Linked DNA regions of Homo sapiens: region 2 is linked to region 1. Evidence: fine-mapped expression QTL. Tissue or cell type: monocytes after R848. Region 1 holds a variant in brackets; the other region holds the start of a gene. All regions are shown on one strand. Distances are between the middles of the regions.

Region 1 (8,244 bases):
GGGAAGTCAGTGGAGTAGAGGACCTGCCATGGTGCTGCTGATAGCAGCTCTCCGACAGCTGAAGGGTGCAGGGCTGAGAGGTGGGAGCAGAGGTCCTTTCCAGCACATGGCCTGAGAGAGTTCTGGATCAAAATCCTGCCACATATCCAGGAAGAACCTGCCCGGAGGGGTGGACAAGAGCAACCCGGTGCCACCCCCCAAAGTCTCTCTTCCCATCCACTGCCCTGTGCCCACTTATCCTAGTCATCCAGGAGAAGCCCACAGTCAAGCTGCTGCTCAATGCTTCTGTTAAGGGCCTAACATGAATCATCTCACTTTTTTTTTTTTTTAAGACAGAGTCTTGCTGTTGCCCAGTCTGGAGTGCAATGGTTTGATCTCGGCTCACTGCAACCTCCGCCTCTCAGGTTCAAGTGATTCTCCCGCCTCAGCCTCCTGAGTAGCTGGGATTACAGGCATGTGCCACCACACCTGGTTGATTTTTGTATTTTTAGTAGGTACGGGGTTTCACCATGTTGGTCAGGCTGGTCTCGAACTCCTGACCTCAGGTGATCCGCCTACCTCGGCCTCCCAAAGTGCTGGGATTACAGGCGTGAGCCACCGCGCCCGGCCAAATCATCTCACTTTATACACTTGCCTGAAGGAGCCACGTTATCCCTATTTTGCAGATGAGCAAAGGTCTACGGAGCTCCTGAAATCCAGGCAGTCTGACGTCCAAATCGGAGTCTAGGTCCCTAAACTGCCTCTTCCCCACAAACAGCCTGGAGCCCCTTAGGGTTGGAAGATATGAGTGAATGGATGGATGAAAACAATGAATGAATGGGGGGGCCTGTGGATGCTGGGGAAAGGGGCATCAAAGCTGGACTGGGTCCAAGCCTTGCTCAGGTGTGGCCTCAGCCGGGGAATCCAGATCACAATTTCAGGGACCAGGCTGAAAGGAGGGAAAGGCTCGGGAAGGGACTGAGGAACCCAAGACAGGTCCCTGGTTGGCCCCAGGACCGGCGCTGAGGCCCGGGCCCCGCCTCCGTCCGCGCCTGGAGCCACAGGCCGTCCTTGGTAGGCGCTTAACTCAGGTTGGGTGACATTTTCGCTCGCCAGTTCCTGGCATCAGTGAGTGCTCCGTCAATGTTTGACAAACGGTTGACTCCACTGCCCCGCGCTGTGGGCGCACTAGACTTCGGGGGCGGCGTCCAGGTCCCGCCTAATCTTCTAGGCTCAGGACCCGCGGCGCAAGGGAACGCCCGGGGCGGGGTCGCCTGGGGGCGGGGCCTGGGGTGGGGCCTGCGGACCGAGGGGGCGGAGCCGGCCGCCCCGGGGTCCTCAGTCCGCTCCGGGAGAGTTAGGGCTCCGAGCCGAGCGCGCGGAGCAGCTGGGGCCGGGGCGCGGATGCTGGAAGTTCACATCCCGTCGGTGGGGCCCGAGGCCGAGGGGCCCAGGCAGAGCCCGGAGAAAAGCCACATGGTGAGCGCGGCCCCTGGATGGGGAGGGGCGCCGGGACCCGCAGGATTTCCCCGCGCTGCGCTCAGTGGGGACCCGGGGCCCGGGCCTGGGTGAACGAGCGCTGCGGGCTGGACCGTCGGGGGAAACCTTGTCGAGGGTTTGGGGGCCGCTTGGATTTGCCAGCCTCGCGGACCATGGTTCGAGCTCTTGAGGGACCCCAGGGCTCCGAGGGGCAGGTCCGCCAGCCGGTTCTCCCAGGTGTGCGGGAGCGGAGAGTCCCCGGGCAGCCGCGGCGCCGCAAGGCCGCTTTGTGCCTTTGAGAGCGGGAGGGTGGGCACGTCGCCAGGCGCAGGTGCTGCGGCGTCCTCCCGCGGGGCCTCACGCGCAGACCCGCTGCCCGCCCGCGCCGCCAGGTGTTCCGAGTGGAGGTGCTGTGCAGCGGGCGCAGACACACGGTGCCAAGGCGCTACAGCGAGTTCCACGCGCTGCACAAGCGGGTGAGGCGGCGCCGACCTCCCACCGGCCCCGGCCCAGCCTCTGTCCAGCCCCCGCCCAGGCCCTGTGAGGCGGGCGGGCGAGCCCCAGCCTCCGCCACCCCCATTACTGCCTCAGTCCCTGCGCAGCCGGTCAGCCCCCGGGCCTCTGTGGGTGGGTTGGGGCCTTCCTCGCCCTCGGCCGGTCCACCACTCACCAGGGTCTGTCCCAGTAGAGCCCGAAGGCGGGGGCGCGGGAGGGCTTCTGGCTGGGGCGAAGAGGGCTTGAGGGCTCAGTCGGGATGCTGTGATCGCACGCGGTAAACCTCCAGTAGATCAAGAAGCTGTACAAAGTGCCCGACTTCCCCTCGAAACGCCTGCCCAACTGGAGGACCAGAGGGTTGGAACAGCGCCGGCAGGGCTTGGAGGCTTACATCCAGGTATGCGAGAGCACAGTTGGTTGCCCCCCGGCCTTCTGTGCCAGGGGTGTGGCCCAGACAGAGAGGTGTGGGGGCATGGCAGGGAGGGAACCCACAACTTGGGGATGTTATTCACCACCTCAAGCATCAATTTTCTGAGTCTAATATAGGTCCAAACACCCCCCTCTGGCTTGTTGAAAGGACTGAAAGAGGTAACGGACACAGGTAGTCCCAGCTCCATGAAACCCAGGTCCTGTCCCCTCCATGGTGAGGTCCTGTGCTGCCCTCCTGATGGCATGTAGGGTGAGGGTCCTTCCCCCAACAGCAAAGCTATGCCGCGTCATGGGGTACAACCTGTGCACACAGCGCCCAGCGCCCAGAAGGGCCCTGAGCCTGGTTCAACGCTCTGCTGTCATTGTCGTGAAATTCTTTTTTTGGAACAAAGAGCCCTGCATTTTCACTGGCACTGCGCTATGCAAATTAGTAGCTGGGTCTGATTGCAGGTCTCCTCTGTCCTCTCCAGGGCATCCTGTACCTGAACCAGGAGGTGCCCAAGGAGTTACTGGAATTCCTGAGACTTCGGCACTTCCCCACAGACCCCAAGGCTAGCAACTGGGGGTAAGGGGGGCCGATGGCGGGGGCCAGGGGCTGTCAGCAGTGAGCAGGTGAGGAAAGGTGTTGGAGGGCAAGCCCTTTCTTTTCACATCTGCCAGGATCCAGCATGACCGCCCTCACCAGCTCTCTTGACCTGGGTGGAGGGGCTTTTTTTTGGACAGACTTGGTTACCCCCGCCACCTCCGGAACTGGGGCTTGTTACAAATAGAAGCAGTGGTCCCCTGGGAGGTGCAGTTCTGGGCTCTGGTGTCTCCACCCCTTCCTCACGCTCCCCCGGCATCCCCAGGCAGCTTACAGTGTTTCTCTTCTCTTCAGCACCCTGAGGGAGTTCCTGCCTGGCGACAGCAGGCAAGTCAAAGCCCTAGCCCGCGCTTGGCCCCTGCTGCCCCCTAGTGGCCATATGCTAGGAGGCAGGCCTGCTGCCTGGGCCTGTCTGGCCTGGGCCCTGAAGTCTGTTTTCCCTTTGGTGCCTCCTGAGCCCATTTCCCACTCACCTTTTCCTTCATGGGTCCCTGGTGATGGCAACCCCGTCTCCACCCCTCTGTGGGATTCTGCCCTGCCTCCCGCACCCATGGTTCATGACCCTGTTTCCTCCCAGCTCCCAGCAGCACCAGCGGCCTGTCCTGAGCTTCCATGTGGATCCCTATGTTTGCAACCCCTCCCCAGGTGAGGAGGTGCCTAGATATGGGGCTACAGGGCTGGGTTGTGGGCTTTGCATTTCTCGGCTCCTGGGACCCTCAGACAGCATCTCCTTCCTGCTGCCCACCTCTGGAGCCACTACCTCCTGCTCCTGTCCCCTGGAGCCTGCTTTGTAGACACAAGGAAAACAAGTTTGGCTTCCCTGGTCTCCATTTCTTCAGCAGCCTGACTTCTTTACCAAGCTGATGTGAAAAGAATGTGACCTGGGAATGCGGAGGCTTCATTTGGGGTGGACAGCTGCTGTCTGCTGCCTTGGCAGGGGCTCCTACTCCCAAGTGGGGGCTGAGCCCATGAGCAGGAGCTCAAGGAGCTGCAGGTCTGAGGCCAGACCTGTTTAATTCTATCCCACAGAGTCGCTGCCCAACGTGGTGGTGAATGGTGTGCTCCAGGGCCTCTACAGCTTCAGCATCAGCCCAGATAAAGCCCAGCCAAAGGCGGCCTGTCACCCTGCTCCTCTGCCACCGATGCCCTGATCAGTCCAGAGGCCTTTGGCTGCCTCCTAAGAAAGTCATGTGCCTCTGTCCTATGAACTCCATATAAGGCTGGGTCCTCCTTTGGCCTGGACCCAGGACTTAATTACCCAGTGCCCAGTTGTGCCACATTCCCACTCAAGGCTCAGAACTTGGCTCGCATTGGTAGCTGGAGGTGGTAGAATTTGTATGCTCTTAGAGCCCAACAGCCAAGGCAGGGTCAAGAAGATAAGTAATAAAAGAGGAAGTCAGCCAGGCGC[G/A]GTGGCTCATGCCTGTAATCCCAGCACTTTGGGAGGCCAAGATGGGTGGATCACCTGAAGTCAGGAGTTCGAGACCAGCCTGACCACCATGGAGAAACCCCGTCTCTACTAAAAATACAAAATTAGCCGGGCATTGTGGTGGTGCATGCCTGTAATCCCAGCTACTCGGGAAGCTGAGGTAGGAGAATCTCTTTTTTTTTTTTTTTTTTTTTTTTGAGACGGAGTTTCACTCTTGTTGCCCAGGCTGGAATGCAATGGCACGATCTCGGCTCACGGCAACCCCCGCTTCCCGGGTTCAAGCAATTCTCCTGCCTCAGCCTCTCGAGTAGCTGGGATTACAGGCATCCGCCACCATGCCCGGCTAATTTTTGTATTTTTAATAGAGATGGGTTTCACCACGTTGGCCAGGCTGGTCTTGTACTCCTGACGTCAGGTGATCCACCCGCCTCGGCTTCCCAAAGTGCTGGGATTACGGGCGTGAGCCACCGTGCTCGGCCCAAGGCAGGAGAATCTCTTGAAGCCAGGAGGCGGAAGTTGTGGTGAGCCGAGATCGCGCCACTGCACTCCAGCCTGGGCAACAAGAGTGAAACTCCGTCTCAAAATAAATAAATAATAAAGGAAGAAGTCAGCTGGGTGCAGAGGCTCATGCCTGTAATCCCAATACTTTAGGAGGCCAAGGCAGGAGGATGCTTGGGTCTGGAAGTTTGAGACCAGCCAGCGCAACATAGTGAGACCTGTCTCTACCAAAAAAAAAAAAAAAAAAAAAAAATCAATTTAGAGGTAGGCTATGAAAAAGTACAGATACATCCCTTAACATAGACTGGAGGGTGGTGGCAAGGGGAGCAAATGTGGAGGCCCAGTAGCTGGCAAAGTTTAGAAGCAGGGGGCAAAAGCTCCTGCCTGACTTTTCCTGGGTAGCTCCTGGGTCAAAATTTCAGGCAGGATCCCAGGGAAGGGGCAGGCACCCATTGCCACAGGAGAGTTGCAGGCATGTTGGGATGTAGGCCTAGGGGAGGTGCTGCAGGCTCAAGAACCAGGCCCACACATTATATATTAAAAAAAAAAAAACCCACATTTTTTTTTATTGGTCAGTGTTGGTAGGAGTTTGTTACAAAAGTGAGTCCATGGGCCTGTGGAATGTGAGGGGAGTGGGTCCGCTCCACCAGATGCCAGCACCGGGGCCAGTGCAGCTCAGAGCCCTGTGGCGGACTACAGGGCCTGCACAGACGGTCACTCAAAGAAAGATGTCCCTGTGCCCTACTCCTTGGCGATGGCAAAGGGCTTCTCCACCTCGATCTTGCCGCAGTCTGCGATGATCACATCCTTCAGGGGTTTATCCCGGCTGTCTGTCTTGGTGCTCTCCACCTTCCGCACCACCTCCTGGAAAAGAAAGGTGGAAGCAGGAGGGCATGGTGGATCAGGAGGTCCACCGCTCAGGAGAAAGGCCCCAGCGTATGGCTCAGGAGGGCTAAGACCCACAAGTGATCAACAGCACACAAAACTGGAGGCACCAAAATTCTAACAGACTCCTGGCCAGAGCAGGGAGAATGCAGATTTGACGAGGGGGTACAGGAATTTTGTTCCTTTGAAGTAAGACCCAGGTTGGGCCAAGGGTGAGGAGGAGGAAGAGGGTGACCAGGGCATGTGGCTTCTCAGGGACATTGCGTTCAGCTGCACTCTGTATACCTCAGGGGTGGGACCAGCACGTCACTGAGTGAAGGAGGGGAGGGAGGCTCTGGCAGTTGTGCAGCCTTCCTGGCTGGGCTCTGAGGGGGCTGGAAGAATTTAGAACCTTGGAGGCATGGAGGTACAGGGTTTATTCTGGACAGGAGCACTGGGCTGCATCTGTGGGTTGGGTCCTTTTGGGAAAGGGATGGACACATGGAGCTCCTGCCCTGGGGTCTGTGTTGAATCCCCGGTGAGGATTGCCCAGTAGTAGCCCTTGCTTCCACAACTCACCATGCCCTCTAGAACTTTGCCAAACACCACATGCTTGCCATCTAGCCAGGCTGTCTTGACTGTCGTGATGAAGAACTGGGAGCCGTTGGTGTCTTTGCCTGCGTTGGCCATGCTCACCCAGCCAGGCCCGTAGTGCTTCAGTTTGAAGTTCTCATCGGGGAAGCGCTCACCGTAGATGCTCTTTCCTGGGAAAAAAGACAGAGCAGGTCAGGGGCGCTGGATTGCGCCAAACCAAGCAGACATTCGGGGCCAGGACTGAGGGGGCTTAACCTGTCCTCTGTGCCAGGCTAGGCTGGAGTGGACTACAAGGACATAAAAGCAGCGTCCTTCCTATCTTCTGGCCTCAGAGCCAAGCCATGCTGACTGAGGCCAAGTGGGGCATCAGGCCAGGCTGATGTGGTGAACAGCTCACAGAAGGATTACTTTGAGAAGATAGTTTTGTGGCTTTTAAATAAGGCGCATGTTATCAGCTCCCCTTAGCTATGGCCCAGGCCTGCCACGGAGGGACTTTGGTGGAGGGAAGTGCCGTGCAGGATGCAGGGGAGTCAACAGGGTCGGAACTCTCCAGAAAAGGAGGACTGCTGTGGCTGACCAGCCTGTTTTCCTATGAGCACAAAAGACACAGGCATAGCTGCAGAGGAGAAAGCAGCCAGAGATGTGTGGGGAGGGGCAGAAAAGAGGGGCTGCCCCTTGGATTCTGGAGAGTCAAAGCCTCTTAACAAGGAATGAACAGGAATAAAAGACAGCTGTGAGTGTGTGTGACGCGTCTGTCCACGTGGGGCTTGGGGATATGGTAAGGGCAATCCGGAGTGATCTCTATGCCATTTCAGAGATCCTAGTTCCAAAGCTGCTTCCACGAGGAACACCGAAACCCTTCTTTTTCCCTATCACCCCTTGGAGACTGACACTGTGCATGAGGCCCCAAGAAACTCAGCCAAAAATGGGGTCATTTTCATTTTGTTTTATCTAACACCTTTCAAACATATTTGCATGCAAAACTCTTTTTTCCTTCTCACTGCACCTACCTTCATCCTGTGGTTCCACAGAATGGAACTGAGCTGGGAAACTGTCCTAGACAGATGCCAACCAGGAAGATGTTTCTGATTGGGCAGCAGGTAGGATGACTGAAAACCAAGAATGACCAGACTCTGGCTGGTGGGGACAGGGTGCTTCTGCCTGTGCTCCACCTCTCACCCCCACGCTGGGGAGACTGGACTCTGCCACATGTGCAGTGAGACCTGGCTGGAGTGCTGGCTAAAAGCCTCCCCCATTTGAGCCAACTGTGGGATTTTGATTATAGTTGTTATCCAGAAAACCCCCAAATCTCCATCCTTAGCTCCAGCCACTCTCTCAAGATACAGGGGTTCCAAACTCAAATGGACATTTCTATTTAAACTCAACATACCTTGTCATCTTTCTCTCCAGACCTCAGTTATTCTTTTGACCCCTTTTCCTCTGCACGTGGCTCAGGTTGTCCCTACCCACTCCCCATGTACTTACTCTTTCTTTCCATTCCCACCACCACCGCTGCAGTAGGCGAGTGCTTAGGGTGCTCATAGTGTGAGCCAGAGACTGTTCCAAGCATCTTACATATTTAACAATCCACTCTATGAGGAGGAGCTAACTCCACTTCAAAGATGAAGAAACTGAGGCACAGAGAATAAAAGGAGCCCCAGCAGAGCAACAGCGGGGCTAGAGTTCAGACCAAGGTGGTCTGCTCTCGAATCTCTGCTCTCAGCCACCTCAGGATCAGGTCCAAATCTCCCTGCCCAGGGTCAGTGGCACCAATGCCCCCAGCAGCCTGCCTGCCCTAGCCTCCACATCCTGGATCTGCCACCACATGACTCCCCTGGCACCCCAAGTGAGGGGTCATCCTCTTACTCAGCTCTGTGGCCCTGACTCCCTGCAGGCC
Region 2 (8,000 bases), 200 kb after region 1:
CAAAAAAAAAGTGAAAAGATAAAAGAAAACACAGCAGAAAGCTTAGATATATACAGACCTTACACTCTCAGAAGAGCCATTTAGAAAGCTAAATAACCTTACCAAAACTCTGTAACTATCACAAAACATAATTTGAATTCTTCTTTTTTTTTTTTTTTTTTTGAGATGGAGTTTTGCTCTTGCCCAGGCTGGAGTGAATGGCACAATCTTGGCTCACCGCAACCTCCACCTCCCGGGTTCAAGCGATTCTCTTGCCTCAGCCTCCCGAGTAGCTGGGATTACAGGCATGCTCCATCATGCCTGACTAATGTTGTATTTTTAGTAGAGATGGGGTTTCTCCATGTTGCTCAGGCTGGTCTCAAACTCCTGACCTCAGGTGATCCGCCCACCTCGGCCTCCCAAGGTGCTAGGATTACAGGCATGAGCCACCATGCCTGGCCTAATTTCAACTCTTTATAAAACAAAGAGACATGGGGAAGAAATATATTTGAAAATTTCTCAGGGCTGGGTGTGTTGGCTCATGCCTGTAATCCCAGCACTTTGGGAGGCCAAAGCTGGCGGATCACTTGAGGTCAGGAGTTCGAGACCTGCCTGGCCAACATGGCAAAACGCCTTCTCTACTAAAAACACAAAAATTAGCTGGACATGGTGGCACACGCCTGTAGTTCCAGCTACTCAGGAAGCTGAGGTGCGAGAACTGCTTGAACTTAGCAGGCGGAGATTGCAATGAGCAGAGATTATGCTGCTGCACTCCAGCCTAGGTGACAGAGCAAGAATCTGTCTTTAAAAAAAAAGAAAAGAAAATTTCTCACAAATTTACACAAAACTTATGAACTTCTCAAAAAAGGTCAAACTGAATTGCAAACTTTGTATTCTCACAAACATCTATTATTACAGGAAGTTATTTGATTTTTGTCCTCTGAGTATAAATTACATTTGAAAATAACTAACTATAAGTCACCTCAAAAAGCAAACTACGTTAGCTGAAAATCTGACATATAATAGGTGACACATAACTATATTATTTTAAATCCACAAAACAAATGAGTATAAAGACTTTGGCCGGGTACGGTGGCTCATGCCTGTAATCCCAGCACTTTGGGAGGCTGAGGCGGGTGGATCACGAGGTCAGGAGATAGACACCATCCTGGCTAACATGATGACACTTCGTCTCTACTAAAAATACAAAAAAATTAGCTGGATGTGGTGGCATGTGCCTGTAATCCCAGCTACTCAGGAGGCTGAGGCAGGAGAATTGCTTGAACCTGGGAGGTGGAGGTTTCAGTGAGCCGAGATCGTGCCACCACACTCCAGCCTGGGTGACAGAGTGAGACTCCATTTCAAAAAAAAAAAAAAAAAAGAAAGAAAAAGACTTCATGGGCTGGGTGAGGTGGCTCACACCTGTAATCTCAACACTTTGGGAGGGCGACGCAGGAGGTTTGCTTGAACCCAGGAGTTTGAGGCTGCAGTGAGTATAATTGCCCCAGTGCATTCATTCTGGCCTAAGTGACAGAGAAAGACCTTGTCACTAAAAATAAATAAAAAACAGACTTCATGTTTCTTGGATTTATTTCTATATCGTAATAAGGAATGATTTAAAGGCAGAAATGTATTCGATTTTGTTTTCTGAATATTATATAAGTTTTTCTAGTAGCATAAATCTAACTGAGATGAGAGGTGCTGCTGATGCTGCTGATTTTTATCTTAAAATTACAAGTAGGCCGGGCACGGTGGCTCACACCTGTAATCCCAGCACTTTGGGAGACCAAGGCGGATGGATTACAAGGTCAGGAGTTCAAGACCAACCTGACCAACATGGTAAAACCCTCTCTCTACTAAAAATACAAAAAATTAGCTGGGTGTAGTGGCAGGCGCCTGTGATCCCAGCTACTCAGGAGGCTGAGGCAGGAGAATCGCTTGAATCCTGGAGGTAGAGGTTGCACTGAGCCGAGATCGTGCCACTGCACTCCAGCCTGGGTGATAGAGCAAGACTCTGTCTCAAACAAACAAACAAACAAACAAAAAACAAGTACCTTCTATTTTACACCCCAATTTTAATTCTCTTTAAAGAGACATGTGATGTTAAGATTTACATACATTACTTTTTCATGTATTTCGTGTTAATCCATACTATAAACACCAATATGGTGTAGCTGAGAAAAATCTATAAAATATATTTTGCTCATTTCAATAAATGGGCCATATTCTACTTTATTATTTTGAATTTTAAGAAACTACTGATAACTGAATTTCATGCTACCTACGATCAATTTCGAGAAGACACTGAAAGTCCTATTGTATGCATTTTTTTTTCAAAATTATCCGGTTGCTTTCCTATCTCAAACCTCGTTTCACAAAACTGGGCTGCCTTGACTGTGTATGATTAATGGTAATAATTTATCTTCTAATTCAAAGGTGGTTCCGTTTAAAATGGGATGTTACTTATAATACAGGTAAGAATTTTAACTCATACTACTTATGAAGAAACAAAAGCTCTGGTAGGTTCCATGACTTGCCCAAGGTCAGTAACTAGCAACTGGCATAGTCTAGGTTCAACCCAAGATTTATCTGCCTGAAAGTCAATACTTCCACTTGACCGCAATTATCTCCTTAAAAGATTAAGACACAGGCTCAACAGCAGAACATTCATTCTCTCTCTGAAAATTCACATATCTGTTCTGAGACATCACTACACAGCACCTAGTATTCAGTCACTGATTGAAACAAAAATGAAGAGGATCTTTCTACTTCATTTAAATTAGGACAGGTTTACTGGCAGGTAAGAAAGAGGCTGCAAAAGCCTTGCCTCAACATGTCTTGCCTAGACCTGTGATACATCTATATGGTTTCCCCAGTCCATTCTTTTTAAATAAACACGTACATCTACTACACAAGACTACACCTGGACTAGCCTATTGTTAAATGCTTTTCAGAATTCCACTTTTCTAAGGTAATTTATACCGGAATTAATATCGAGCTGGGAGACTTGGTTGAATATGTCATTCAGGCACTTTCCAAACATCTTAAGTGTCATTTAGGGGCAACAAACCCAGTTCCACTCTCTTTTACATTGTGATGCCTGCCCACTTGGGGGACATTGCTCCTGTAGGACGTGGGGGCGAGGAAACAGTAAAGGAAGAAGTGGGGGAAGCGTACGGAAGTTGGGTAGAGGAAAGTCTCATTACCCACTCTTGTGCCCTAAGCTCCGCCAAGGGCGGCTCCCCGCGGTACCCAGTCGACTCAGAACCCCCACAACCTTCGAAGTCCAGCTCTGTCCCAGCGGGGTGGGTAGGGAAAGAGGGCAATGGAAGCACGGGATAGCCCCAGTCACCCTGACGAGATCTGTGCCCTCCTTTTGGCTCCCGGGGGATGCTCCCCCTTTCAGAGTAAGCCCTCCAGGTGGCAAACTCCCGGTCCACACCGGCTAGAGTCAGTTTCTCGGAAGGGGCGCCTCCTCCGCCTACCTCTACCCCGCTAACCGAAACTCTCCACCCGCTGTGTCCCTCAGCCCCTCCATTCCGCCCCCGCAACCCTCCACAGACACAAACGCCAGCCTGCGCCCCACCCGGGATCACGGCGTCCCCCACCCACGCCCAGGAAAGGGCCCCCCACCAACCCCCTCAGACACACACACACCCCCTCAGACTTCAGCCTACAGAACCCCGACGAAGCCGGGCAGATACCTGGTCCAGCAGTGCTGCAAGGCGCAAATGAGGCGGGCGCGGTCCCCTCCCCGAGGCGCCAAGTGCTTCTCTACCCACCCGCAGCGGTGGTTTCTCTCTTTCCCAGGAGCGGGAGGGAGGGGAGAAGGCGGACGGGAGGGGGAAGGCGAGGAGCCGAGGGGCGGCTGGAGCCGAACCGGAACCACTAGCGCGGCCCCGCCCTCGTCCCGGAGTCGCAGAGTACCCTGGCGGGCCTAATAGGACAAACTTTGGGCAGGCAGCGTTAAACTGACACCATCACTTCCGGGTTATCCCCACGGCTGCCCCCTCCTTAGCAACCGCGTGGGGTTGCTAAGCGGAAGTGCCTTCAAAGCAACCCACCCCCATTTCTTCTGGGACTACCAGAAGATATATCGGGAGCACTGAGCTCTGCTTTGGCAACACGCTCTTACCTTCTGCTCAAGATCTTAGACCAAGTACACGCTTCGCTGCCAGAGGCACGAAACCCATCCCGCTTTTCCCTTCAACTGTACTCCTCCACCAAGCCCCCGTCTCTATATACTCCTGCTCCCTCCCACCCTTAATCCCGTGGCTGACCCAGTGGCTGTTCCTAAGGCTCCAGGCTCCTCTCTCAGGTCCCTCGAGGGAATTATTTTCTGACGGTTTAGCAAGCATCTCCCTCTTGTGGATTTTTAATTGTGTTTCAACCAGATTTTTAAAATTTCTTTCAATGTTGTGAAAGGTTTTTCATGCACTTAGTTCTCCTGTGACAGCCCATGAAGCCGAATGGTTAGAAAAATGTTGTCTTCACCTACATTTTGTAAGAGCTGCACATGTTTGTGTAAGGTCTGGAATTAACCTAGCCAAATGGAATAGGCAAAAAAGATTCAATGTAACTCGACAGTTATTTTAATCCTTAAAACAGAGAGCAGGGCACATGTTCTCAGGACCTCTTGAGACTGCGCCTCGGGGGCGGGGTGGTGGTGGAAAAAAGACAGAAAACAAAGAAAAAGGCTAAAGGGAGCCCATAATCAAATTTGGGAAGGAAGAAGACTGTCTAATCCTCCACTCAAAACTCAAAATATGCCGGGTGCGGTGGCTCACACCTGTAATCCCAACACTTTGGGAAGCCGAGACTGGCGGATCACGAGGTCAGGAGATGGAGACCATCCTGGCCAACATGGTGAAACTCCGTCTCTACTAAAAATACAAAAATTGGCCGGGCGCGGTGGCTCGCGCCTGTAGTCCTCCTGTAAGCACTTTGGGAGGCCGAGGCGGGCAGATCACGAGGTCAGGAGATGGAGACCATCCTGGCCAACATGGTGAAACCCCGTCTCTACTAAAATACAAAAAATTGGCTGGGGGTGGTGGCACGTGCCTGTAGTCCCAGTTACACGGGAGGCTGAAGCAGGGGAATTGCTTGAACCCGGGAGGCGGAGATTGCAGTGAGCCGAGATCGTGCCATTGCACTCCAATGGCACTCCAGCCTGATGACAGAGCGAGACTCCGTCTCAAAAATAATAATAAATAAATAAACAAACAAACAAAAATTAGCTGGGCGTGGTGGCGTGTGCCTGTAGTCCCAGCTACTCGGGAGACTGAGGCAGGAGAATCGCGGGAACCCGGGAGGCGGAGGTTGCAGTGAGCCGAGACCGCGCCACTGCCCTGCAGCATGGAGACAGAGCTAGACTCCGTCTAAAAAAAAAAAAAAAAACCTTCAAAATAAACTTTCATACCGACACTATGGATAAGAAAAGAGACCTCATTTATTGTGTCTGGGTGATTTGGGGTTTGAAAATATTGGGAAAATGAATGGTTGGGGTAAAAGTTAACAAAGTAATACTCGAAAAAAACAACTCGTATCTGGAGGCTGGGTGCGGTGGCTCACGCCTGTAATCTCAGCACTTTGGGAAGCCGAGGCCTGAGGATCACCTGAGGTAAGGAGTTCGAGACCAGCCTGGCCAAACTGGTGAAACCCTGTCTCTATTAAAAATAGAAAAATTAGCTGGGCGTGGTGGTGGGCACCTGTGATCCCACCTACTCGGGAGGCTGAGGCATGAGAATCATTTGAACCCAGAAGGCAGACGTTGCAGTGAGCCGAGATTGCGCCATTGCACTCCAGCCTGGGCAACAGAGCGAGACTCCGTTTCAGAAAAAAGAAAAAAAAAAAAAAAAGGAAAAGAACCCATATCGTTATGGCAGGTAAAATATTCAGAGAAATGCAGTTGGGCATTCAGAGAAAAATGAGTAAAAATCTTCATTTGGTTTTCCTATCTTAAATAGGTCTTCTTACAAGCAGAATGCTTAACAGTAGCTCCTAAATTTGTTTTCTATTCCATGGCAGTGAATATACTTGCCACGGCAGGCTCTAATTTTATTGGTCATGATAACCTCTTTATAGACACCAAAATTGAACTGTTATCCACCTTAACTGGGGCAGAGAGGAAATGAGCTTTGGTCACTTAAACGAAACACCACGTCTATTGGTTTCCTGTATGCATGAGACAGGGTTAAATTGATTCACCATAGGCAATCACTTCAGCAAAACCTTTAGGAAATCACTTCAAACTCAAATGGGTCAATAGGATGTTTAATACATCTCCACCTCTGCCATTGACATGAATACATGTGGGAGTATATACACATGCACAATTCAAATGGAATTTCAGCTCATCCACTAATTGTTCCTTTAAAAACCTGGGCGGGATGCAGTGGCTCACACATGTAACCCCAGCACTTTGGGAGGCCAAGGAGGGTGGGTCATCTGAGGTCAGAAGTTTGAGACCAGCCTGGCCAACATGGAGAAACCCCATCTCTACCAAAAATCAAAAAAAAAAAAAAAAAATTAGCCGGGCATGGTGGCAGATGCCTGTAATCCCAGCTACTCGGGAGGCTGAGGCAGGAGAATCGCTTGAACCCAGGAGGCTGAGGTTGCAGTGAGCCAAGATCGTGCCATTGCACTCCAGCCTGAGACAGAGCAAGACTCCGTCTCCAAGAAAAAAAAAAAAAACCTGGCTGAAAGTGACAAGTGGTAAACATGTTACCCTGACAAAACAGAGCTTGGTATTTCAATTGCCAAACAGGTTTAAATATCAAAAAACTTTGAAATAGTAAATAAAATGAGCTCAATGAACAACAATATATCTAAAACTATGATAGACTAGGATGTTTCAAAAAATTAAAACATGATTATGGTAAATAATAAATGTGTTCTATAGAAAGAAATGTTTTATTAAGAAAATCAAGTTATGATTAAATGTGATAGCGTAAGCCAATGTAGAAATGCAAATTCCTATGCATCACTCATTTTACCCACTGCCTGAAGAAAAATGATTTATAAGCAGCATTTGTTTACATCCTCTCTTCCTACAGCTTTTTTAAAAACTCCAGGCACTTTTGTATAGGTGTATGAATAACTGGCTTGACTCCTAATTCATCACATGTCCTCTATTCTATTATTTTCAACATACTCATTGCTTTGAGATCTCTAAAGATAGATAGTACAAACCCCACCTAAAATTAGGTATGTGAGTTTAACTACACTTTTGTAATTTTTGTGGGGAATCCATAGTCTCTCTCTTTTTTTTTTTTCTTTTTAGACAGGGTCTCACTCTGTCACCCAGGCTGGAGTGCAGGCACAATCTTGGCTCACTGCAGCCTTCACCTCGTAGGCTCAAGCGATCCTTCTACCTCAGCCTCCCAAATAGCTGGCACTACAGGCATGCAGTGTGCAGCCACACCCAGCTAATTTTTGTATTTTCTGTAGAGATGGGATCTCACTATGTTGCCCAGGCTGGTCTTGAACTCCTGAGCTTAAGCAATCCGCTTGCCTCAGCCTCCCAAAGTGCCGGGATTATAGCTGTGAACCACCACACCTGGCTAATTTTTGTATTTTTTGTAGAGAAGGGGGTCTCATTCTGTTGCCCAGGCTGGTCTTGAACTCTTGGAGGCCTCAGCCTCCCAAAGTGCTGGGATTACAGGTGTGAACTACCACACCCGGCCATGAATCCATATTCTTTTTTTTTTTTTTTGAGACGGAGTCTCGCTCTGTTGCCCAGGCTGGAGTGCAGTGGCGCGATGTAGGCTCACTGCAAGCTCCGCCTCCTGGGTTCACGCCATTCTCCTGCCTCAGCCTCCCGAGTAGCTGGGACTACAGGTGCCCACCACTACGCCCGGCTAATTTTTTGTATTTTTAGTAGAGATGGGGTTTCACCTTGTTAGCCAGGATGGTCTCGATCTCCTGACCTCGTGATCCGCCCGCCTCAGACTCCCAAAGTGCTGGGATTACAAGCGTGAGCCACCGCGCCCAGCCCATGAATCCATATACTTAATATGAAC

Which allele goes with the higher level. Positions count from the first base shown, and alleles are read on the strand shown. Sizes are in standard deviations (SD) of each study's normalised expression.
For the expression in monocytes after R848 of the gene that starts at base 3,869 in region 2, allele A in region 1 goes with a lower level than allele G (large effect, 1.4 SD a copy in Quach 2016).

Evidence for each region. PIP is the estimated chance that this variant, and not a neighbour inherited with it, causes the effect.
Region 2: CSNK1G1 starts here. The variant in region 1 is fine-mapped to the expression of CSNK1G1 in monocytes after R848 (Quach 2016, PIP 0.92).

Annotation. Positions count from the first base shown.
Region 1 is chr15:64,150,393-64,158,636 of GRCh38, forward strand. It overlaps SNX22 (sorting nexin 22), which reads left to right and starts at 1,339. Exons shown (of 7, transcript NM_024798.3): 1 at 1,339-1,458; 2 at 1,851-1,934; 3 at 2,246-2,350; 4 at 2,853-2,947; 5 at 3,260-3,292; 6 at 3,543-3,610; 7 at 3,995-7,089. The coding sequence starts at 1,384. The coding sequence ends at 4,116. PPIB (peptidylprolyl isomerase B) reads right to left here. Exons shown (of 5, transcript NM_000942.5): 4 at 6,333-6,517; 5 at 5,425-5,753. The coding sequence ends at 5,631. RefSeq lists enhancers at 1-107, 3,035-3,264, 3,288-4,019, 3,765-3,884, 3,895-4,054 and silencers at 1,025-1,464, 1,665-2,044. The variant G/A (reference allele first, on the strand shown) is at 4,374.
Region 2 is chr15:64,352,305-64,360,304 of GRCh38, forward strand. It overlaps CSNK1G1 (casein kinase 1 gamma 1), which reads right to left and starts at 3,869. Exons shown (of 12, transcript NM_022048.5): 1 at 3,684-3,869. RefSeq lists silencers at 3,135-3,194, 3,585-3,644, 3,755-3,804.